4 linked regions of the Homo sapiens genome follow. The protein of the gene in region 1 binds, or shares a complex with, the protein of each later gene. Each region holds a gene or a part of one and is shown in the gene's direction. Other genes may lie near its edges. The genes, in order: COA1, TIMM21, ACAD9 and CMC1.

What was found.
Region 2: COA1 (region 1) and TIMM21 share a complex: the UniProt entries of both Homo sapiens proteins name them as parts of the MITRAC (mitochondrial translation regulation assembly intermediate of cytochrome c oxidase complex) complex.
Region 3: COA1 (region 1) and ACAD9 share a complex: the UniProt entries of both Homo sapiens proteins name them as parts of the mitochondrial complex.
Region 4: COA1 (region 1) and CMC1 share a complex: the UniProt entries of both Homo sapiens proteins name them as parts of the MITRAC (mitochondrial translation regulation assembly intermediate of cytochrome c oxidase complex) complex.

The regions. Positions count from the first base shown.
Region 1 is NC_000007.14:43,642,312-43,650,080, reverse strand, and holds part of COA1 (cytochrome c oxidase assembly factor 1 homolog), read left to right. Parts: exon of another isoform or gene 1-642; intron 643-1,428; 5' UTR 1,429-1,466; coding exon 1,467-1,481; intron 1,482-2,446; coding exon 2,447-2,546; coding exon of another isoform or gene 2,547-2,623; exon of another isoform or gene 2,624-3,609; intron 3,610-4,681; coding exon 4,682-4,830; exon of another isoform or gene 4,831-4,835; intron 4,836-7,769. UniProt on the Homo sapiens protein: Component of the MITRAC (mitochondrial translation regulation assembly intermediate of cytochrome c oxidase complex) complex, that regulates cytochrome c oxidase assembly.
Region 2 is NC_000018.10:74,158,508-74,161,785, forward strand, and holds the end of TIMM21 (mitochondrial import inner membrane translocase subunit Tim21 precursor), read left to right. Parts: 3' UTR 1-2,024; downstream 2,025-3,278. UniProt on the Homo sapiens protein: Participates in the translocation of transit peptide-containing proteins across the mitochondrial inner membrane.
Region 3 is NC_000003.12:128,882,620-128,890,388, forward strand, and holds part of ACAD9 (complex I assembly factor ACAD9, mitochondrial), read left to right. Parts: intron 1-2,033; coding exon 2,034-2,127; intron 2,128-7,769. UniProt on the Homo sapiens protein: As part of the MCIA complex, primarily participates in the assembly of the mitochondrial complex I and therefore plays a role in oxidative phosphorylation.
Region 4 is NC_000003.12:28,320,850-28,325,642, forward strand, and holds the end of CMC1 (COX assembly mitochondrial protein homolog), read left to right. Parts: 3' UTR 1-3,192; coding exon of another isoform or gene 3,193-3,605; 3' UTR 3,606-4,293; downstream 4,294-4,793. Other genes in the region: AZI2 (5-azacytidine-induced protein 2), read right to left, coding at 3,193-3,605. UniProt on the Homo sapiens protein: Component of the MITRAC (mitochondrial translation regulation assembly intermediate of cytochrome c oxidase complex) complex, that regulates cytochrome c oxidase assembly.

The DNA.
Region 1 (7,769 bases):
CTTCCTGTGGCTTCTCTCCTGCGCTTTACACTTCAGCAGTTCTTGTTTCTGCTCACTCTGCCTTTGTTTGTCATTTCCTGGATTTGAAGCTGTTCTGCTCTTTTCACCTTTCTCTTCTCAAGGTAAACTTCCTCTGTGAAACCTCCGCTGATGCCCTGCAGCAAGGTTGACCACTTCCTGAGTGTTACTTCCTCTCTTGGTGCATATGTCTGGTTGCACTAACCAGGCTGCTGCTAGCCCAAAGGCACCTTTGTGCAAATTAGAAAAAGACAACCATCCCCATCCCTTCTTCAAGATACTTTATAGTACTTCCAACTGTTGGCAAACTGTCTTAATAAAGATACAAATCTTTGATTTCTCTAATGTGCATGGTGCCCTACAAGGGTTGTGCAGTGCATAGCCGTGCAGTTGCATGTGATAGATCTATGTTATAATTATTTGTTTAATTGTCTGTATTCCCCTCAGGACCAAGGAAAATTCCTTATATCTTGATACTGTTTTTATATTCTTACTGTCTGACCAGATCAGACCCTCAGTAACCGTTTGCTAAACAAAAGAAGGAATGAAGGTACAAATATGTATCCACCTTGTCTGGAAAAATAGCAGGAAAGGCATGCCTGCCAAGGACTTTTACACTGAACAGTAAGAATATATTTTAGCTCAGAGACACTGTTTGTTTTCACATTTCAATATTGCTTTAATTAGATATCTTAAAGCTCGTGTACCACAGTGGTTGAAAGAGCAGATGCTGGAGCCAGACTGCATGAATTTGAATCCCAGTTCTACCACTTATTCACTTATTAGTGCACCTTTGGGCATGTTACTTAACCTTTCTGTGCCTCAGTTTACTCATCTGCAAAATGAGCGTGATGATAATAGTTCCTACTTCAAAGGGTTGTGAGAATTAAATGAATTATATAAAGTGCTTAGAATAGTACAAGACACATAATAGTCAGAGACAGAAGTATTAGGTATTATCAATATTGTTAAAGTCCATGTATAAGTTTACTGTACTATTGTTTCTTTTTAACTCTGAAGTGCTGTTTTCACTCTGTCACGTACAGCTTTTATTGCTAGCATCTTGCTTCTGCAGGTCCAGCCTCCTGTTGATTGGCCCTGTGTTTGTGCTGTGGTCAAAGCACTTGCTGTCTGCGGTTCTCCCTTGTGCACACCGGTTCTTTGGTTGCTGTAACAAAAACTACATAGGACACAGACAGGAAACCCGCAGGCTTTGTTTTTTCTTCCTAATTTGGCAGCAGAAGGGGGAAAAACCAGGGCCTTTCACAGACAAGGCTTGTTTTAGAGTTTAATTTTAACTTCTTGTTCGTGTTCTAAAGCTTGGGTTGGTAATAAATCTTGGCTGTATGAGACTAGAGAGAACTGGGCTTTAAAAATATGATTTTAATGTAAAATCTTTTCTAATTGCAGGACAACTTGCCTTTGATGATTTTCAAGAGAGTTGTGCTATGATGTGGCAAAAGGTAATGGAATGTTCCAGGGCCAAGTTCCCCACTAGAACCTGCCAGGGTATTCTCGAGTTAGACAATAGAAGAAAGTCACTCCCTGAATAGTTATGGGCTTCTCCTGGTCTTTAGGGTTCACTTGTGCTTTAACTTCACAGGAGGGATGGGCATTTTCTGCATTGTTTCCCACTCTGTCTTTCTCTCGTGTCTCATGCTGGCGTTGGAAGCTGTAACACTCTGGGAACCTCTCCATAACCCAGTCTGGCTGCCTCACCCTGTTGAGCTCTCTTCAAATTAAGCAAGATCTGACTAATACATTCTTCAGAGATGCTCTGACCGTTTTCATTATGAGAACTAAATGACTTTTCCCAGATCACATTACTGTAATTAACTTTACACTCATTTTGATACTCTTACATATTATAAGAGTGGATGGATGGTATGCTGTATTTACCGAGCTGGCATCCCTCCATCTGTTCATTCAGCCTGAGTCATAACCAGAGTTTCCTCATCCCAAGGGTGGTGCATTTTTCAAAATATGAAAGGAGCCAGTGACAGCTCCAGCCCATTCGCAGGCTTACAGGACCAGCCATTGCCACAAAGGATAAGCTTCCTGTTTACCAGTTGGCCTGAGACAAAGTGGTTGTGCTTCCTGGCCATGCGGGGCTTGGCACACAGTCTGGGCTGTGTCTGTCAGGATGGTGGGCTGAATGCTCGCTCTGTGCTGGGCTGGCTGGGGGTGGCAGGGCCCCCACAGCATGGGTCCTGGACATGGGCCACTCTCGAGAGGGCACCCTCAGGAGGGCACTCAGTTTGGCTTCAGAACCAACCCTGGCATTTGGAAAGGAAGCAAATGAGGGAGGGCGGTCTGGCCTCCTTTCTGGCTTCCTTAATGCTTCTTTCCTTTAGGGGTCCAAGCCGGGCAAATCCCCTTGGCACAAAACTGGGAATCCTACAATAAATTTGTATCTTTTGTTTTTAAGTATGCAGGAAGCAGGCGGTCAATGCCTCTGGGAGCAAGGATCCTTTTCCACGGTGTGTTCTATGCCGGGGGCTTTGCCATTGTGTATTACCTCATTCAAAGTAAGTATCCTGCTAGCCGCCTGCGGCCTGACCTCCTCCTAGCCTGCTCCTGCTCCTCCATCAGAGGAAATACTTGAGATGCTTTGTTTAGATTAGAGAAAGGAGGAGAGGGTGATTTTAAAGGCTAGTCCACCATTTCGTTGGCTATAGCTTCCTCTGTATCCTGTAATCTCAGTTTTTCCAGGAGCAACGAGTACAAATAAAAGGACCAGGACTAATATGCATAAGAAGCCCAGCAAAGCACGATGGGCTTTCAGTCCAGTGCACACACAGGGGCTCCATCAAGATTCTGAGATTATATAAAGAAGGGACAGAGGGAAGGGGAATACCAGATGGTTCACAGGTGGGGAAAGCTGTGGCTGTGCGTCCAGCATTGTCAGACTTTTTTTGCACTTTCATTCTCTGCTGTTGATTTAATGGAGGAGGGACCATGAGCAAGGAACTCTGGCAGGGGCAGAAAATAAAAGCAGAGACCACGATGGCAAAATCCCGACAGATGCCGCTTCCAGCCCCACTGCACTCAAATTTGAATTTGTAAAGACAGGCCACAATTACTGTCAGCAGCCAGGACATTTAAGGTCATTTTAATGCTACTGGTGGCAAAGCGGCAGCAGTTTTTTCTAGACTGGCTTTTTTTAGGCTCCTTTATCCCCACCCAGCTTGGCTCGTCATCCACTCTGCAACATTTTCACTTCTTCCCAGGATGTGAGTGTCACCAGCAGACAAGCAGACAGGCTCCAGTGTCCTCTCCAGCCTTTCTGCACCATCCTGCAGAGTTGGTGGAGTTGCAGAGTCTGGAGGGGGCCTGAGATGAGCGTTCCCAGGAATGATTCAGACTGAATAATTTGGCCTCCTCTTCCCTCTGCCAAAGGGACAGGGGCAGGACATGAGAGGGATGGGTGCACTTTTGGGTCAGGGTTCAGCTTTCTGGTGTGACAGCCTTTCTCCCTTAGGAGGCTGCTAAGTCGGTGAGACCTGGGCACTGCAGCCGACTGCCTGGGTTGAATGGTTGAATCTCGGCTCCAGCTCTTGACCAGCTATGTGGCCTTATGGGGGAGTCCGTCACCTTTCTGGGCATTAGTTACCTTATTGGTGTGATGTGTGGTAATGTTAGTGCTTGTGTATGAGGTGAGAATTGAATCTCACAACACAAGAGCTGTTGAACATTGTGAGATGTGTGGAATATTGAGAACAGTGCCTAGCCATAGAAATCACTCAATAAAGATTAGCTGTCTGGACCCTGCTTCTGTCCCTTCTTTTCCTATCATAGCTGGCACCGTGTTCATGCCTGTGGTATTCCCTGTATCCCTATTCCTGGGAAGCAGCCCAGGAGGGGGATTCCCTTGGCCTCTCCAGGGTCAGGTCACCTTTCCCTTCATTAGTGTGATGGGACCTTCAGAAGAGAAGCACTTTCTGCGGCCAAACTGAACACCCTGCTTGGGAAGCCTGCCTCTGCTCCCTCCTTTGGGCAGCTGATTATTAGAACTTACAGCTTCAGGGAGGTGCTTCCCGGAGTTCCCAGGTAGCCTGTGGGCTCAGAAGGATTCCTGAGACTGAGAGCAGTTTGAGTTGAAATGTTGGCTTAAATCTTGATGAATGAACATTTTCATATCCTGTTTCTAGGCCTGAGGGTTTTGTTGTTAATGTTGTGGTCTTTCTATTTTATGTCTCAACTTAGTGGAACAGGCAGTGTTGAGAAGTCAGGTATCATGGATTCTGGCCTCGGCTTTGCCATGGACCAGCTGTGTCACTTTGAACAAGTCATGGAATCATAGTAGGACTTTAGAGCAAACTTAGAGACTTGAGAGGAAACTTAGAGAAGAGCTGACCAAACCTCTTAGGTGTCAAAATAAGGCAATGAGTGAGGGTAGAAATGAGGTGAAGCAGAAAGGGTCTGCATGAGGTCAAGGCCCAAGGTCATCTGCACATCCCTGCAAAACACTGCCTGCCTGTGCTTTGGTTTTTGAGTCTGTAAAATGGACAATTTAGAGTAGATGGCCTTAATTATTCGTCCATCCACAGATTTCACGTTTCTGTTTCTACCCTGTACGTCAGTTGGATTATTTAATTTTCTGTGTAGTAGATTCTACCTGACCAAGTTCAATAAAGAAAATAAGTGTGTCTTTCGTCCTTAGAGTTTCATTCCAGGGCTTTATATTACAAGTTGGCAGTGGAGCAGCTGCAGAGCCATCCCGAGGCACAGGAAGCTCTGGGCCCTCCTCTCAACATCCATTATCTCAAGCTCATCGACAGGGAAAACTTCGTGGACATTGTTGATGCCAAGGTAATGTGCTTTCCCTGCGAACCGCAGGCTGGTGCCTGCTGAAGGAGAGGAGAGTCTACTGTCTCCTGGAAAGTCCTGGAGTTAAGGATTTGGGATGGGAAAATCCACTAAGTAAAGCTAGGTTTGGCACCTTTAAAAAAAGTTTTTCTATTATGGATTTTAATGTTTATATAAAATATATTTTATATTATAGATATTTCTGTATACTTTTCTTCCATTCTGGGGAATTGATGTGGCAGGGAATGCAGTGGGTATGCTGATGTCGCCATCTTGAATTGAAGGTAGTAGAGAAATGACCAGTGGTGGTTTGCTACCATGTTGGCTTTGATAGCTCTCAGCACTTTGGGAGGCTGAGGTAAGAGGATTGCTTGAGCCCTGGGGTTTGAAACCAGCCTGGGCAACACAGCAAGACCCTGTCTCTCTCTCTCTCTCTCTCTCTCTCTCTCTCTCTGTCTCTCTGCCTGCCTGCCTGCCTGCCTGCCTGCCTGCCTATCTATCTATCTATCTATCTATCTATCTATCTATCTATCTATCTATCTAATCTATCTATCTATAATTTAGCCAGGCGTGATAGTGCACACCTATAATCCCAGCTACCCAGGAGGCTGAAGCAGGAGGATCGCTTGAACCCAGGAGTTGGAGGCTGCAATGAGTTATGATCATGTCACTGCACTCCATCCTGGGTGACAGAGTGAAATTGTCTGTAAAATTAAAAAAAAAAGAGAAATGCATCTATATCCAGTCAGTGCTCATTCAAATGTACCCAACTCTTTAAACTTTGATTTTTAAAGTGTATTTATTTACATTGCTTCCACAGAATACCAACCCATTTTTTTAGCTATAACTTATCTTTTTGTACTTGATCACACTCACTTGCATGTAAAACACATTTGTTCTGTTTAACAAACATATTTTGAGTATATGCTCTGGTTTGAGAAATGATTCTAAGCTATGTGGGGAATAGAGGTGCAGAAGGCTTTTGGGGGTTTACAGTTGAAAATTCCTGAGTAAGACAGGGTGAGGGAAACCCTGTCACTATTGTGCAGGCCTAGGGGAAGTGGCTCGAGGCCTGGGAGATGGCTGTGAGGACTTTGAAAGGTGGAGAGGAACACCCGGCTGAGGAGCAGCATGCCTGGGAAAGTTCATCACTGTGTCGCCTGTCAGTGTGATACGGCAGTGGAGGCACAGGTGGGCGAGGTGGGTGTGGGCAGGTAGGAGGGGCTGCGGCCACCAGGGGCCACAGTGTCATCTTGGAAGGTGTGTGCTTGACTCTGGCAGCAGAAGCCCGTAAAGTATTTGGAGGATGAGTGAGGTGATCCGACCTACATTATTTTTTGTTATTTTTAGTATGTTCTTAATGGACCCAGCTCTAATGAGACTTTTTTCTAACTACAAAAGCAATTCATGCTCTGGTATTCTGATTAAAATATTCGGTTTTAAAAGAAGGTGGATTTGTGTAGATTGGTAATGCCCAGGGACTGGCTACGGGGAGCCATCTTTAGGAGAGAGATGTGGCCACACTGGTGTGCAGTGGTGAGAGCATGAACCAGAGGTGTGGCCTGGAGAAGCAAAAGACGGATGTGAAGCCATCGTGGCATCCAAGTGACAGAACTTGGTAACAGTCATGTATCAGGAGCGGGTGGGTCAGAGGTGATGGTCCAGTGTCCAGCATGGACGTGAGTGGAAGGACGGCAGCGACACTGCGTGAGAGAGGACATCCTGGAGGAGGAGCACAGGGAAGGGCTGGGCATGTGTGGAGTGCTCACTCTGTGCCAGGCCACCGGATTGCTCCCATGGTGTGGCGGAGCCTGTCTGTTGCTTCCTTGCCTTTGGTCACTTGGCTAGACCCCAGCAATCCTGAGAACTTGGAAAAGCCACTGGGTAGGTCTGGCTGTTGCGTTTCTCTCAGCACAGAGCCCAGCTGTAGCACTGAGGAATTGTGTGCCAAAGGCGCCTTTGCTGGGGCTGGTTGATGCAGCATCCATGATCTGGTGCTCCAGGAACCCCAGTGAGAGTAGGGTAAGGCCATGGTGGTTTTGGTGGGAGCTTTGTCCTGTCCAGCTTTCACTTTGGCCCCAGTGGTGCTGAGAGGGCGCCTTCCTGGGCTTCCCCACATCCCTGGGGCCTTGGCCATGCTGTGACTATGTTGGTTGTGGTGCTAGGTTCTGGCTTCTACTGCGGCCAAATGCTGTGACTCTGCAGTGACAGGAGTTCAGAGTCTGCTGCATCATGGCCACCTGGAGCCTCAGTGCACGCCTTCCAATTTGTGGACTATTTTTGACATTCTGTCAGGGTCCTTTCTTTATAATCAGCGGTTTGTGAGGATGCCTGTATACAGCATATGCCCTCTTATCCCAAATTCCTTTATTTGCAATTTTTACAGTTTTTCCAGAGGTGAGATGTTTCAGTTGTTCATGAAGTAATTGTCATACATTGGGATTTTTTCCCAAGTATGTGTGTGAGATAGTCACCAGTGACCAACACTTTGCTTTACCAGAACTCCTGCTTTAATCTTTGGCAAGGTCTGGCTGGTGAAGGAACCAACCTGTAAAGTGTCACATCTACCCATGGAAGCACAGCTGCCCACAGTTCAGACATTGGCCCCTCAGAGTTTGCTCTTCTTCAGAATCCTTCTTGCTTCTGCCCATTTCTTTCTCCTTCCTTTTTAAATTTTTTTTTAAAGCATCCAGAGATGCTCAGTGTATACTCTGTTGCTTAATTCTATAATTTCCAGAGAAAAGCTGTAGCTTGACTCAAACAGTGGGACCCTGAAAATTTGTTCTTTTTTAAAATTTTTTCTTGAGATGGAACCTTGCTCTGTTACCCAGGCTGGAGTACAGTGGTGTGATCTTGGCACACTGCAGCCTCCACCTCCCAGGTTCAAGCGATTCTCCTGCCTCACTCTCCTGAGTAGCTGGGACTATAGGTGTGCGCCACCA
Region 2 (3,278 bases), on another chromosome or scaffold:
GCGTGGACTCGCTACTCCGTTCTTCACAGCTGCCTTCCAGAATGTGTTCAAAAGAAAGACAAGAAGGAGTGTATGGCTTATAAAGTGAATCTAATACAGTATTTGTTGCATTTAAACAAACTAGACATTTTCTTACGGAAAAATTATGAAATACAGCATATTTTATGTTCTCCCATTGACTCAATCATGACAATATTTCTGCTTTAACACCATCTTTCATGATTAGAAATGTTTGTTATTGGAAATGTTACACCATGTAAATAAAGGAAATAGATTTTAGTATTGTATTCATTTTATATTATAGAACTGCATAATGTCTGCAGAATAAAATTAAAACTAACAAATATGTCATTAGCAGCTGCCCTCCGCATACTTTGGAATCTGACTTGAGATAAGCATGTGAAAATGGTTGAGGGCCATAGGGAACCAGATGGTAAATACATTCTTCAAAATTGTGTGAGTTTTAGGAATCTGTCTCATATTTCGCGCTTCATGAATTAAGGGCCTAGTACATAGCGGGAAAAGTACACACTCCCAAGTTGGGTAGACCTGGGCACCCACCCCACCTTTTCTAGCAGGTGCGTGGTCAAGTGTCCCTGTTGTGTGGGTTGTTAGGATGGCAGTGTGATGAGAGGTACAAGCCTGGACCATAGAAGGCAGCCATGAAGTGCCCTCATCCCCTTTAGAACTTACTTGCACTGATACTTCTGACTGCCAAAAGAACATGGGAGTGAATGAGAGACATTCAAATACGTGTGTGAGGCCCCTTAAAGAAAAAAAAAAAAAAAAAGGAAATTCTATTTTATTTGAAATATTTGCTGGGGATTTGGAAAAAAGTGACCTTCACTTACAAGATCCTGATTCCATATCTATGTAAGTGCTATGTGCATTGGGAGGGGTCTAGAACCATGTTTATCTGCGGTGGCTTCAGTGTGAGGTATCCCCTCTGATGTGTTTGTTCCTTCTCCCCGAGAACTGTCTGTAGAGGAATTTCTGATGTGTTCTTGAAATTTTGGGATATTCAGGATAGAGAGACCTCCAGGCAATCTATCTCCCCTTTTTACTTTATCTCCCTGCTTAATTTAGTTAGTTTCTTGGTTTGACTGCTTGTTTTAGATGTTTTTAATTATAAAAATTTCCAACATTTAAGGAGTATAGAAAATATAACAGACACTCGTCTCCCTGACGTAACACACTTTGACTGAATGAGGCCTTAACTTAGGCTTTCTCTCCTAATCGTTTTTTCCTTTGCTATAGAATGTTCAGTTTCAGGATTCACTGAAATGTCAACATTTAACAGGCTGAGAAGTTCCACTTGCTATCCTAAACTCAAAAAAGCAGCCCTGCTCTTCAAACAACCTGCTCAAACTGTAGCTTGCTGAAGAAGCCCGGCATCTGAGCTCAGGTGGGGATTTAGCCACCCTCCATGGCCCTGTCATTTGACTTAAGACTGTTTGCTTTTTCTGTATTCATTTTTATGCACCTGCCATTTTACAATATGCTCATGCCCCTTTAAGATCTGAGCTTTTGGCCAGGCGAGGTGGCTCATGCCTATAATCCCAGCACTTTGGGAGGCTGAGGCAGGTCAATCACTGGAGGTCAGGAGTTCAAGACCAGCCTGGCCAACATGGTGAAACCCTATCTACTAAAAATTCAAAAAAAAAAAAATTAACCAGGCACGTTGACACACTCCTGTAATCTCATCTACTCAGGAGACAGGAGAAGCGCTTGAACCCAGGAGGCAGAGGTTGCAGTGAGCCAAGATCATGTCACTGCACTCCAGCATGAGTGACGGAGTGTGACTTCGTCTCAAAAAAAAAAAACAAAAAACAGATCTGAGCTTTTATAATTAGAAATAAAACTAAATTACTTTTTCAAAAGGAAAAACTCTGTACCAATAAGAGATTCTTCTGTATAGCCACAGGAAAATGTGATGTGTAACTCTCTAGATCTCTGTTTTCATTCCCTCTGATGTACCCTACTAAATGTTAAAATTTCTGTGTTTTAAGACCCTCTTTAATCCACTTTGATTGTGGTGTCTCTGTCCATGGGCTTACTCCCACTTTTTCTCTGAATTCTAGGGCACTTATCTGACTCTGCCTGGTATCCCCTTCCGTCATATTTGTGAATTTGCAAATGCTCTGGTCATTTTCCTCCAAGGCCTCTGTCATTCCTCCACACCTGATCAGTGAACTCTTTTCACAACTAACTCTAGAGCAGACTCTCCTGTCACTGTTTGCTCTTCCTCCTTAATGAAGAAATTATATGCAAGGCAAGAGTTTATCAGAAGTTCTGCTTTTAGCCCCGTGAGATTTCCAGCCTAACTACCCTGCAAGCTCCCTTCATAACTATTGTTGATCAATGCTAGTAATACTTTATCCATTTATTTCCATTTGGTAAGCCATTACAATATTACTTCTGTTTCTCTTATTCTCATCCAGAGACAGTTCCCCAATTCCTAATTCATAGATTTCTACTCAGGGTTACACTTACTATTTATTTTATATAGTACCACTCATGTGTTCCATCTGTTAGATTTCATGCAACATATTGATTAAGGGTATGCTATATGTCAGACTAGAGTCGTCTAGTGCCACGGAAAAGCTTGCGGGCGGGGTGTGGAGTGCAGGGGCCAGGTATATCGTGTGACAGTGTTAAGGTTTTGATCCTGTAGGCCCTGAAGAGCATCACAGGAATCTGAGTGGGAATTAAGCTGCTGTATCTGTATTTAGAAGTGGTAGTTGTGTGCAGGATGGCTTGCATTTGGCAGAAGCCAGGTAGAGGTTACCGTAATAGTTGAGATGAGAGAGGATAAAGCTAGAGAGGAGGTAGTACATTTGAGAAATGTGTGAGGCTGGGGGAAGGACAGGACTTTGTGACCAAGTGCATGTGGGAAGTCACGGTGAGGAGTCGAGAATAACTCAGGCCTCTGACCGTTAAAATCCGGAGTCACACGGGGAGGAGTCGAGAATAACTCAGGGCTCTGACCGTTAAAATCCGGAGTCACACGGGGAGGAGTCGAGAATAACTCAGGCCTCTGACTGTGTTAAAATCCGGAGTCACACAGCGGGAGCAGTCGAGAATAACTCAGGCCTCTGATCGACTGTTAAAATCCAGGACAGGATGGGTCATGAGCAGAAAACAGTCAGTTCTACATTGAGCTCAAGGTACATCAGTCAGCCAGGTGAAGGCCTAGAAGCAACAGGTTTCTCAAGTCTGGCGCTCAGGATGCTGTCTGAACTGGACGAGATTAGGAGTGGCCTGCAGAGAGGAAGCAG
Region 3 (7,769 bases), on another chromosome or scaffold:
GAACTGCTGCAGGGATGGGTGGGAAGTTGAGTGGGTGGGATTTGGGTGCCTGTTTTCCCTATCAGCAGTCTCAGTCAGAGCCGCCTGCTTCTGTCTGTTTTACATATTTGGTTTCTGCACTAGATTTCTTTGAATAACAGGTTCCACTTTTTTAGATAATTTACAAACTGTTTATTGCAATTGAACTCTCCTCCCCTAAGGCATTGACCTGATTTGATAACATCAGGATCTTTCTCCCACGCCCCTGCAATCTCTCCTGTGTGGCAGGTTTTCTGTGGTTGTACCTGAAGGCCAATTAGTTGCCAGGCAGTCTTATCTGGCCTGCCCACTGGTACCAGAATGATCTCTAACACAGCCCATTGCACAAGACCCAAGTGTCAGTGAGCCTCTGTGTTCAGTGAAGGAGACTGAGCTTTGATATAAAAGGCTGCAGAGTGATGGAGCCATCAGCTTGTTTTTTTTTTTTTTTCTTGTTTTTTTTTTCCTTGAGACAGTGTCTTACTCTGTTGCCCACCCTGGAGTGCAGTGGTGCAATCACAGCTCACTGCAGCCTCAACCTCCCCAGGCTCAGGGGATCCTCCCACCTCAGCCTCCTGAGTAGCTGGAACTACAGGCGTGTGCAACCACGCCCAGGCTGGTTTTGAACTCCTGGGCTTTAAGCAATCCCCCTGCGTCAGCTTCCCAAAGGACTAGGATTACAGGCAGTAGCCACTGCAACCAGCTAAGCTTGTTTTTTTCTTTTTCTTTTCTTTTTTTTTTATGGAGTCTCACTCTGTCACCTAGGCTGGAGTGCAATGGCGCAATCTCGGCTCACTGCAACCTCCACCTCCCGGGTTCAAGCAATTCTCCTGCCTCAGCCTCCTGAGTAGCTGGGATTACAGGCGCGTGCTACCAAGCCCGTGTAATTTTTGTATTTTTAGTAGAAACGGGGTTTCACCATGTTGGTCAGGCTGGTCTCAAACTCCTGACCTCGTGATCCGCCCGCCTCGGCCTCCCAAAGTGCTGGGATTACAGGCGTGAGCCACCGTGCCTGGCCTCCAACCTTTTTTTTTTTCTATACCACCTTCAGGGTGGTTTTGGAATGGATGGAGGCAGGGATTCCTTTAAGTTGGCTGTCACTTTTAGTTAGGGACTCACCTATAAGCCTGTGGTCCTGGGCCCAGAGAGGAGAAAGCAGTGCGAGCATATTGATAGAGTAGAGAAATCTGTTGGCTGATTAGCTGTACAAGGTCTGAGGAGAAGGTTGAGGTCTCCCCAAGACTTCTCTAGAACACTTGGTGAGAGGCGCCATGAGGACAGGTGATGCTTGGGCTTATAGCTCTGACTCAGGACATCACTGCTCAACAGCCTGAAGCCCACATCCAAAGCTCATGTCATGCTGGCAATTGAAGGGGTAGCAGAGCCCAAAAGTCCAGAGGGGCTCAGCACAGGGAGCAGATGTCTGTGAGCAGGAGAGACAGCGGCTGTAGGGATCGATGAGACTTGGTAAGCATGATGTGCTCTTGTCAGCATAGCATCTTTGAGCTCACACAATAATTGATGTAGAATTGTCCATTTCAGTAAGGAGTTTCCACATCCACTATCTTCCACGATTCTCACAAGGGCCTTGAGTAAATATTACCTGCATGTTATGGGTGAGAAAGGGGTAGTTTAGAGAGCTGAAGGGATTTGGTGAAGGCCACATAATGAGTAAGCCTGAAATCAAGGACCAGACCCCCAGGCTTCTAAATGTTAGTCTTGGGCTCCTTGTTTCATGGGACTATTATCATCCCTTGTACTGAGAAGGAAAACTGATGAAAATCGGGAAGAACCTATTTGAACAGGGGAGGGAGATGGATGTGGGTGGTGGAGCCTGCACATAGTTTCTGTATCTCAGGAACCTTGTGAGGTTTGCTTTCCAGTTCCTTCAGTACGTCATGTCCCGCTGGCCAGGGTGGAGTGGAGCACATGTTTTTCCTTCCCTTTTAACTGATATTTCCGTGATGGGAGTGTGCTAAAAATTAAATTTTTTAGAAAATATTTACTATTTTTAGAAAGAAGTTTTCCCATTTCCAGAAGTTAGCCAAGATGAACTTAATGAAATCAATCAGTTCTTGGGACCCGTGGAAAAATTCTTCACTGAAGAGGGTATGTATGGTTTTCTTTACCATTGCCGATTTCCATTGTAAGGGCTATTTGGTTGATATTTATATTAGAAGTGACATACATAGGAGAAGTCTTCTTGAGGGAGAAATGGTTTCCACTCATAATATTTTGCTTTAGGTTTCATCCCTATTGCCATTTAATTAAAAAACATCCAGTTAAATGCTTCTCATTGTATTTGTGGTTCAGGAGCACTTTAAACATTTCCATACTGTTCCAGGTCAACACTTCCATAAAGCTATAATAAAAATGAATAACTAAAAAAATTAGATGGCAAAAAGCCAAGGCCACACACCATACAAGCCCATGGAGCATGTGTTGGTTGTTGTGGCAGTGTACAGTTGCTCTTAGTGTTTCTAAAGGTTGAGTTTCAATTTCTGTACTTTGGTAATTGTAAACAAAGAGTGATTTGTGGACCAGCCACAGTTTGGCACCTGCATGGTGAGGCAGCATTTGACCTCAGGTCCCTCTCTCAGAGCTGTTGGCCGGTCCTCCAGCCAGGGCCTTGGTGGAGAGTTCAGTGATGGTGGATGGACAGCAGGTCTTCCCTAATAGTAGGATCCTGGAGAGCTTTTGTTTATATGAATTTTATCTATCAATATTTGCCATCTTAGGGGTTATTTTATTTTTATTTTACTTTATTTTTTTGAGAAAGGGCCTAGCTCTGTTGCTCAGACTGGAGTGTGGTGGTACCATCTCATCTCACCACCACCTCCATCTTTCAGGCTCAAACAGTCCCCCAACTTCAGCCTCCTGAGTTGCTGGAACTACAGGTGCGCACCCCCATGCCCAGCTAATTTTTTTGTATTTTTCATAGAGACAGGTTCTCACTATATTGCCCAGGCTGGTCTCTACTCCTAGGCTCAAGTGATCCTCCCACCTTGGCCTCCCAAAGGGCTGGGATTACAGGTGTGAGCCACCATGCCTAGCCCCTCTTAGAAATTAAAACTGAGAAATTTAAAATATACTGTGGGGCTGGGTGCAGTGGCTCACGCCTGTAATCCCAGCACTTTGGGAGGCCAACGGGGACAGATCACCTGAGGTCTGGAGTTCAAGACCAGCGTAGCCAACATGGTGAAACCCTGTCTCTACTAAAAATACAAAAATTGGCCGGGCATGGTGGCGGGTGCCTGTAATCCCGGCTATTCAGGAGGCTGAAGCAGGCGAATTGCTTGAACCCAGGAGGCAGAGATTGTAGTGAGCCAACATTGCACCACTGCACTCCAGCCTGGGTGACAGAGTGTGACTTTGTCTAAAAAAAAAAAATAAAATATACTGTGTTCATTTGTTTAAAAATAATAAATCCATTACATGTTAACATAATATTTTTAATGAAAAATATTTTGTTTTTGTTTTTCCGAGACAGAGTCTCACTCTGTCACCCAGGCTGGAGTGCAGTGGTGCAATCTCGACTCACTGCAACCTCTACCTCCCAGGTTCAAGTGATTCTCCTGCCTCAGCCTCCCAAGTATCTGGGACTGCAGGCATGCACCACCACGCCCGGGTAATTTTTGTATTTTTAGTAGAGATGGGGTTTCACTATGTTGGCCAGGTTGGTCTTGAACTCCTGACCTCATGATCTGCCTTCCTCAGCCTCCCCAAGTGCTGGGATTACAGGCGTGAGCCACCGCGCCAGCTAATGAAAAATATTTTGAAAAATAATCAGGCCAGGCGCGGTGGCTCACACCTGTAATCCCAGCACTTACGGAGACTGAGGTGGGTGGATCACCTGAGGTCGGGAGTTCGATACCAGCCTGACCAACATGGAGAAACCTCATCTCTACTAAAAATACAAAATTAGCTGGGCGTGGTGGTACATGCCTGTAATCCCAGCTACTCAGGAGGCTGAGGCAGGAGAATCGCTGGAACCTGGGAGGCGGAGGTTGCGGTGAGCCGAGATCGCGCCACTGCACTCCAGCATGGGCAATAAGAGTGAAACTCTGTCTCAAAAAGAAAAAAAAAAGAAAAGTAAGTTAAAAAAAAAAAAAGAAAAAAATTGATGGAAAGAGTGACATTGGTTGAAAGTTATGCAAGTCCTTTTAATGTTTGGCTTATTAGAAGACAGCTGGATTCTCATACCTGTTTGTGCACGTAACCTCTGGAAAAGTCCACTGTGCAGTCTTTTTTTTTTTTTAACTGTCTTTTTTTATAATCTTCAGACATGCTTTTTGTTTGTTTGTTTCTGAGACAGTCTTGCTCTTGCTTTGTCACCCAGGCTGGAGTGCAGTGGTACGACCTCAGCTCACTGCAACCTCTGCAGTTGAAGTGATTCTCATGCCTCAGCTTCCTGAGTAGCTGGAATTATAGCACGCACCGCCACGCCTGGCTAATTTTTGTATTTTCAGTAGAGATGGGGTTTCACCATGTTGGCCAGGCTGGTCTTGAACTCCTGACCTCAAATGATCTGCCTGTAATCCAAAGTGCTGGGATTACAGGTGTCAGCCACCGCACCTGTCCTGACACGTGCATTTAAAGCAAGAAACACACACTTCCAGGACATAGGGCTCTGTCAGCAATAACTGTCATCTTTGTATTTGCAGAGATGTAAATATATAAGAAACCGGCTGGGCACGGTGGCTCACACTGGTAATCTTAGCACTGTGGAAGACTGAGGGGGGCAGATTGCTTGAGTCCCAGAGTTTGAGACCAGCCTAGGCAATGGAGCGAAACCCTGTCTCTACTAAAAATTTAAAATATTAGCCGGGCATGGTGGTGCGCGCCCATAGTCCCAGCTACTTGGGAGTCTGAGGTGGGAGAAGGTACCCAAGCCTGGGAAGTCAAGGCTGTAGTCAGCTGTGTTCATGCCATTGAGCTCCAGCCTGGGCGACAGGAGTGAGACCCTGTCTCAAAAAAAAATAAAAATAAAAATAAAAAAATAAATAAATATATATATATATATATATATATGCAAGAAACCACTGCAAACCAAACCCACTCCCTCTCACAGGAACAAAGGTCTCTTGGAATAAATAGCAAATGCTGGAATAAAAACTATGTTCATTCAGCTGCCATGATGTGAATTCAAAAAGGAAGTTAAATCCAAGGGCAAAGCAGAGAAAAGAACATACAAAAATACACCTATTTCATGTACATTCAAAGAGGAGGCTAATCACTGTGGACAAAGGGCCCTCTGGAATGACAGCTGTAGGCAGCCAGCAGTGCCACGGAAATAGAGGCACTGTCATCTGGAGACACAGAAAAATCACATCCTCCCACAACTGGCCTCTATGAAAACCAACCAGGACAGACAACCCTTCCCCAAAAGTAATGGCCAAGAATAAAAGCACAAATATTGCTGGAAATCCAAGTAGCCTGTTTTACTGCTTTGAGTGACTTATATGCAAACCTAAGACTTTTTTCTGAATCCTTGATCAAGATTTATTCATATAAAGGCCGTACATAAATTCTGGGAACATGGTACTTTGGACTATATATTGGACTCTGAGCCAAAACGTTAAATACACTACACTGCGCCCCACTGTACAGTCTTCAGAGAATTAGAATTTAAAAGCAAGTAACATCTTAAGTAGTTTTAGGCCAGGTATGGTGGCTCATGCCTGCAATCCCAGCGCTTTGGGAGGCCGACGTGGGTGGATCACTTGAGGTCAGGAGTTTGAGACCAGCCTGGCCAACATAGTGAAACCCTGTCTCTACTAAAAATATAAAAATTAACCAGGTGTGTTGGTGCCCACCTGTAATCCCAGCTACTGGGGAGGCCGAGGCAGGAGAATCACTGGAACCCGGGAGGTGGAGGTTGTATTGAGCTGGGATGGCGCCACTGCACTTCAGCCTGGGTGACAGAGTGAGACTCCATCTCAAAAAAAAATAAAAACTAGTTTTGATCCTGTGGGACCCCCTAGAAGCAGCTCAGGTCCCCCAGAACCTCTTTGAGAAGTGCCAAATTGTCAGCTGTCATTACATTGCTTGGTTTTTGTTTGTTTCTTATTTCACACCTGGTGATCACAAATTATATGTTGCTAGTTTTAAAAGTTGCTTATTTATATATAAACATAATTTATAATTTAGAAATACTTATTTCTGCTTTTTTTCCTAGTGTTTATCTTCCTATTTGTATCTTTTTTTAGCTCCCATAGTCTCTTGTTCTTTTATTTAAACTTTTCCTATGTGGTTTGTCAGGTTTTTTTTTTTTTCAGGTTTAATTAAGGAATAATTGATTTACAATAAATTGCACACACTGTCATGTGACACATAATGACATTCAAGTCAATGACAGACCATATATACAGTGGTGATCCCATAAGATCATCATACCATATTTCTACTGTATCTTTTCTATGTTTAGCTGTGTTCATATACACAAATACTTACCATTGTGTTACAGTTGCCTACAGTGTTCAGCACAGTAATATGCTGTACAGCTTTTTTGTTTTGTTTTGTTTTCCTTAAAAAAAAAAAAACAAAAAATATTTAACAGTGAGATGGGGTTTCACTGTGTTGCCCAGGCTGGTTTCCAACTCCTGGGCTCAAGTGATCCTCCCGCCTCAGCCTTCCAAAGTGCTGGGATTATAGGCATGAGACACCACGCCCGGCCTACTGTACAGGTTTGCAGCCTAGGAGCAATAAGCCATACCATATAGCCTAGGTGTGTAGTAGGCTCTGCCACCTAGGTTGTGTAAGTCCATTCTGATGTTCATACAGGGAGAGAATCACCTGACGCATGACTGTATTTAGAGAGTACCCCTCAGGAGCCATCAGTGCAACAGAGGAAGTGAACGTACTCATTACCCGTCAAAGTTTCCTTGTGCCTCTTTTATTTCCCCCCTGTTTCCAGGCAACTGCTGATCTGTTTTCTCTCACTATAGATTAGTTCGTATTTTTTGGAATTATATTATGTGTGATTTTGTCTGGCTTCTTTCTGCATAATTTTGAATTTCATCCATGGTGCATGTATTGGTAGTGGCTTCCTTTTTAATGCTGAGTCATATTTCTTTCTATGGATATACCAAGATTTGTTTATCCATTCAAGTATTCATCAACATAGGGTATGTATCCAGATTTTAGCTATCACCAAAAAAGTTGCCATAAACATTCCTTTTTTCCTCTTTTTCTTTTTTTAAGAGACAGGGTCTTTCTTTGTTGCCTGGGCTGGAGTGCAGTGGTGTGATCATAGCTCACTGCAACCCTTGAACTTCTGGGCTCAAGCCATCCTCTGCCTCAGCCTCCCGCATAGCTAAGACTACAGGCACACGCTACCATGCCCAGCTAATAATTCTTAAAGTTTTTTGTAGAAATGGGTTCTCACTATGTTATTCAGGCTGGTCTCAGACTCCTGGGCTCAGGTGATCTTCCTACCTCAGCCTCTTAAAGTGTTGGGATTACAGGTATGAACCACTGCGCCTGGCCTGTATTTCCTTTTTTTTTGAGATGCCATCTCGACTCACTGCAACCTCCATCTCCCAGGTTCAAGCGATTCTGCCTCAGCCTCCCGAGTAGCTGAGATTATAGGTGCGTGCCACCACATCTGGCTAATTTTTGGTATTTTGAGTAGAGAAGGGGCTTCACCATGTTGGCCAGGCCAATCTCGAACTCCTGACCTCAGGTGATCTGCCCGACTCGGCCTCCCATAGTGCTCGGATTACAGGTGAGAGCCACCTCGCCCAGCCTGG
Region 4 (4,793 bases), on another chromosome or scaffold:
TCCACAGCCATTGTAACTAGTTTCAAGATAAGTAAATTTTACGTATATTTTCACAGTCCTCATTAAAATCACAAATAGAAATTACTACCCACTAAGACAAGGTTTAACTTTCCCTAATCCCATGCAATAGATCTGAGAGATTTTTTTTTAAGAAAGAATTTAAATAGGACACTAAAGAATCAATTCAAGTTCCACACTTTACTCTTGAGTGAACCACTCAAAAAACTATTTTACTTTTATTTGAAATACAAAGAAACCACATTTTCCCAGGCCACAGATCAAAAGGAGGGAGATTACTAGAGCAGACAAAAGCAAAGCAAATATAGAAATCTAGAGACCACACAGCATAGGGGCAAACATGCCCATATTTCCACATTGACCTTTGGTATTGGTGCATTTCCTAGAGCACAGGAAGTTAACTGTTTTTAGAGATAAATGAAAATGGAAGAGTTACTTTAAGAAGCTAGTGAAATATACAATCTATTTTATAGCTTTGATTAAAATCAGAAGTAGCCCACTTCATGTAGAAAATTCACTTATGTACATGTTGCTTTCCCCATAGAAGCCAGATTAGATTACACAGTATAAATAATATGTTCATCCTCCTTATGTCAAAGACTAAACCATTCATTGTAGCCTTCAGAATACCCATGTGTATCCATACTGAAGATTTTTTTCACCTGGTACATCTGTCTCAGTTGTGTCTTGCTTGCTTATGGGTGCCTCTGTTGATATTATTCCCTGTTAATATGTGGTAACCCACAGGTTTTTTACCCCTTAAGATACACCTTCTCCAAGTAGCCTTTCTGAATTAAGATCAGTACTTTGTTGTCACATGATTCAGCTCTTCAAGTCTGAATTTTCCCATTTATTTTGGTTTTCTAATGTTTCACATAGGCATGTTCCTGCTTTTAAGAATTCAGTTCCATTTTGGCAGCAACTCAGTAAGTCTTACAGATGTAAATTTTACTTTAGCTAATAAGGGAGCAAGAGGAAGGAATAGGTGGCTTTTTGTTATGTTTTCTTCATTCTGTCGATTTATGGATGTACTGAATTGAACCTTATAAAAAGAAATCTAAAGATTCCAAAGGAAGCTCTTTAGAGCAAGTTTCAGCTAGTATGAAAGAAGTCAACATAAAATATTCAATTTTAAATAGATTCATAAGCTACAGATGGGCCACTGTTTTTTGGTTGTTTGAATTTTACCTAGAACAGAGATATCAAGTGTAGATTTAAAAGCTTCTAGCTGGGTAAAAAATTTTTGGCTAATCTTTCCTTACTAAAGAACCTTATACATCATTTGTCTAACACTTTAAACTGTCACAGTCACTGACTTTTTAGTATACCTGTTTGATAGCTATCATCACTGTACTGTTTAAATGGAAAATAATTTTCTCCACTCAAAAGCTGGTTTAACAAATGTCTATTGTATGAATCATATTAACAACCAACAATTAGTACTAGATTTTGAGATCTATAGGCAAGGACAATATTTCACATCCACTTCAATTTCAAACAAAAATATTTATTTTAATTAAACAATTTCTTGGTATTGTTCAAAACATTAATCAAGCAATTATCTCATAAGACTTTTTTTCTTTACAAAGGAAAATTTCCAATTTTGGTTTTAAAAAAGGCAAACCAGTAAGCTACATTAGAGATCAGATATAATATACAGCCTATGCAGCCACATGAGAAATAGTTTTTGCTGCTTTGTTATTACACAGGTAGTTGCTTCCTTCAGCTAAAGCCTGGAGTATTGTATTTCTTTTATGCATATTGGGTTTGGTTCTATTACTTGGCAGGAGATTGTACTCCCCTGAGTCAGCTGTGTTCATTGGTCAGAATAAATTCCAGCATCTGACACCAATTCCATTAATCACAGACAAGCTTGAATAAGTGTAAGATAATAGAAAAAAATATCTAGTGAATGGCGAACATTGTCTATGTATGTATGCTATTCAGTAATACAGTAGAAGAGATCTGAGATATTGAGTTCAAGATATATGAAACTGTCTATCAAAAAGGATAAAAGTCCTCCTACATGAAATACTTTAATTCAGGCAAAAGGTGTATGAACCAAGTAAATCTCCACCCTGAAAGAACTTAAATTTCCATGTGAAGCCATCTTTATTTCCTTCTTTATTTCCAAATAATTGGCCACTTAGAATAAGTGTGGACATTTCATGATCGACAATATCAATACAGCCCAAACCCTGATTTCTATGATTAAAAATAATAATTTTAAATCACTTTCTCAATAAATAGAATATTACATTTCAACACAAAGTCTAACAATTTAGAAGCTGCTCTACACAATGTGCAGCTAGCTGTAGTCTCTTTGAAGAAAATGACTTTTTATCATTACACACATTTATGTTTATATTATGGCCCACAGAAGGGCAGATTAGACTGAAATCTGTGTGATGCTCCTTCTACTACTTATTGAATAGTGTGTAGGGTTACAATCATTTGTTTACACCCCAGAGTTTTTCAACTATTTCATTTTTTTTTTTTTTTTTCCCAATTAGGACTTAAGGAATGTGCTGGGACAAAGTTGGCTTCAGTGATCAGGTTGTTTCAAGTCTTAGAATTCAAACTTCAATTCTAAAAAAATTTTATCAACAAAACACTGTGACCAAAAAATCACTTTAAATCTTAAATATTGAAACGCAATAGCATATAAAGATGGTATAACCTAAGATGCTTTTATTTCATTATATTTTCAATATCTTTACGCATTATAACAACAGAAATGTAACCTACTCACATTGCCATTTGTTCCATTATGCAATTTGAAGAAACATGTTTTCCTTTTATTTTTATGAACAGATATTTAGACATTTCACATTTTGTAAAACCACGTCTACAATCTCCAATTCCATTCTTCTGAGAGGCAAAATTTTACAATTAATATAGAAGGCAGAGTTTTTTAAACACCTTAAGTTTACTTATTAATTAGTATAGTAGCATATTTCAGATTCTTAGAATATGGAGCTAGAGGGTGCTCTTTCATACTAGAAAACCAACTATGTTGGTTTTTGTACTATTGTACAGTGTGTTCAAATATAGATACTGAAGACCTCTGCAAAATTTTAATCAAAATCTCCTTTCAGTTTGTTAAATAATTTCTTGGGAGGACCACTGAAAGAGATAAGTGTCCTCATGGTGAAATCGTGAATCTCTTCCAAATTAATTCTTATAAAGGCAGTTCTGATTATGTTGATCCAAGTAATGCAGTGGTGGAAGGTTGGGTAAAGGCAAAGTTTTAGTTTTAGTTTCCCCAAATGCTGTCTCACTTGATTTAGGAGGACTTGGAAATACCCAGGAATTGTCTTCCAGAGAATTTCTGCCATAAGAACTGTGTTCCTGAAAGCATGTACCATCATTAGGAATGGATCTCTCATTGTCTGTCCATGATTGGAGGATTGCTTTCTCTGATAAAACCTTTACATCTCCTGGTAAAGGGGAAGATGTGGTATGACAAAGAGCTTTGCCATTTGGTAAGAGAGGGGGATGTCTTGTGTATGTTGCAGTAAAATTCATCAAGTGCAGTTTTGTGCTGTCTCTTCCAAGGTCTTCACTGCATCCTACAGGGGCACAGGCTAAAAAGAAAACACAGACTAAATGTCAGTTTTCATTACATTTGTGATCATAAAATTCGATAACACTTCACCAATTTGAATTCTAGAACTGGTGATGAAATTAAGATTTCCAAGTTAGTGTGATCATTGAGGCACTGTGACTAGGAGATAAATGACAGATGATCTGAGTTTTAATCCTGGATCAGCAATTTACTGTGACTTTAGATATTTGTCTCTTAGCTGCTCCTGATGTCTCTTTCCTTGTCTGCAGAATGGATATAGAATTCCTGTCCCAACTATGTCATAGAGCTTTTAAAAGATGAAGAACTACATATTTTTAAAAGTTGGAAACTAATACAGTTAAAATACAAATAAAGATCCTGTTCTTGGCTCTTATTGTGGCTGGAGAAGGATTGCAGACTGTTCACATGTCAGTGGGGACTGAGACAGTTCTTAAGTTTTAGCATTTTTTAGTTAAATATAATATTCCTTTGCTCAAACTCTTTGTCCACAGGCAGTCCAAAAGCAAATTTTTTAGAAATAATTGCATTTTTAATTGGTGAGACCCAAATGAAGTTTTTATATATCAAAGGCTTTTATGGATAAAGCAGTTTAAATAAAATTTGTGAAATCTTGTTTCTTGTAAAACACAGCAAATGTTAATGCTACTGTGGTCACAATGTAGGTAAAGTAAAAAAAAAAAAAAAAACAGCCAAAAAAAAAAAGTTTTGTACAAATGCAATGGCCTAGAAAAAGACTACTTAAAAGCTATTATTTCACCACAGCCAGCACATTGGTAATACAGGTTTCTCCACTCCCTCCAGCTCAGCCTACCAGTGTGGAAAGGTAAGTTTATCCTTAGCTCAAGAAGGATGGCCAAGTGTAACTAAGGCTTGACTTCATGTAATTTTAGAAGAAACAGATTGAACGACATTATAAAATAAGTTCATTGTTTTTCCTGGGAGGGTGGATATGGATGGAGGAGAACTGGAAGTGTAGTGTTTGGCTTTGGAAAAAAGGTGATACAAAGGTCAGGAGAAAGGTGGTTCTAGTCTCATCTCTGTACTCCTCAAAGCAATGAGTTCTGTGTAAGGAGTGGTGACCTTGAGCCTACCACTGTCATAGGAAAAGTGCTAGAAAACTTATGTTCCAAAGCACCGAAAAATATTAATCAGCTAGGAAGGAACACAAGGATGAGCCATGTCCAAG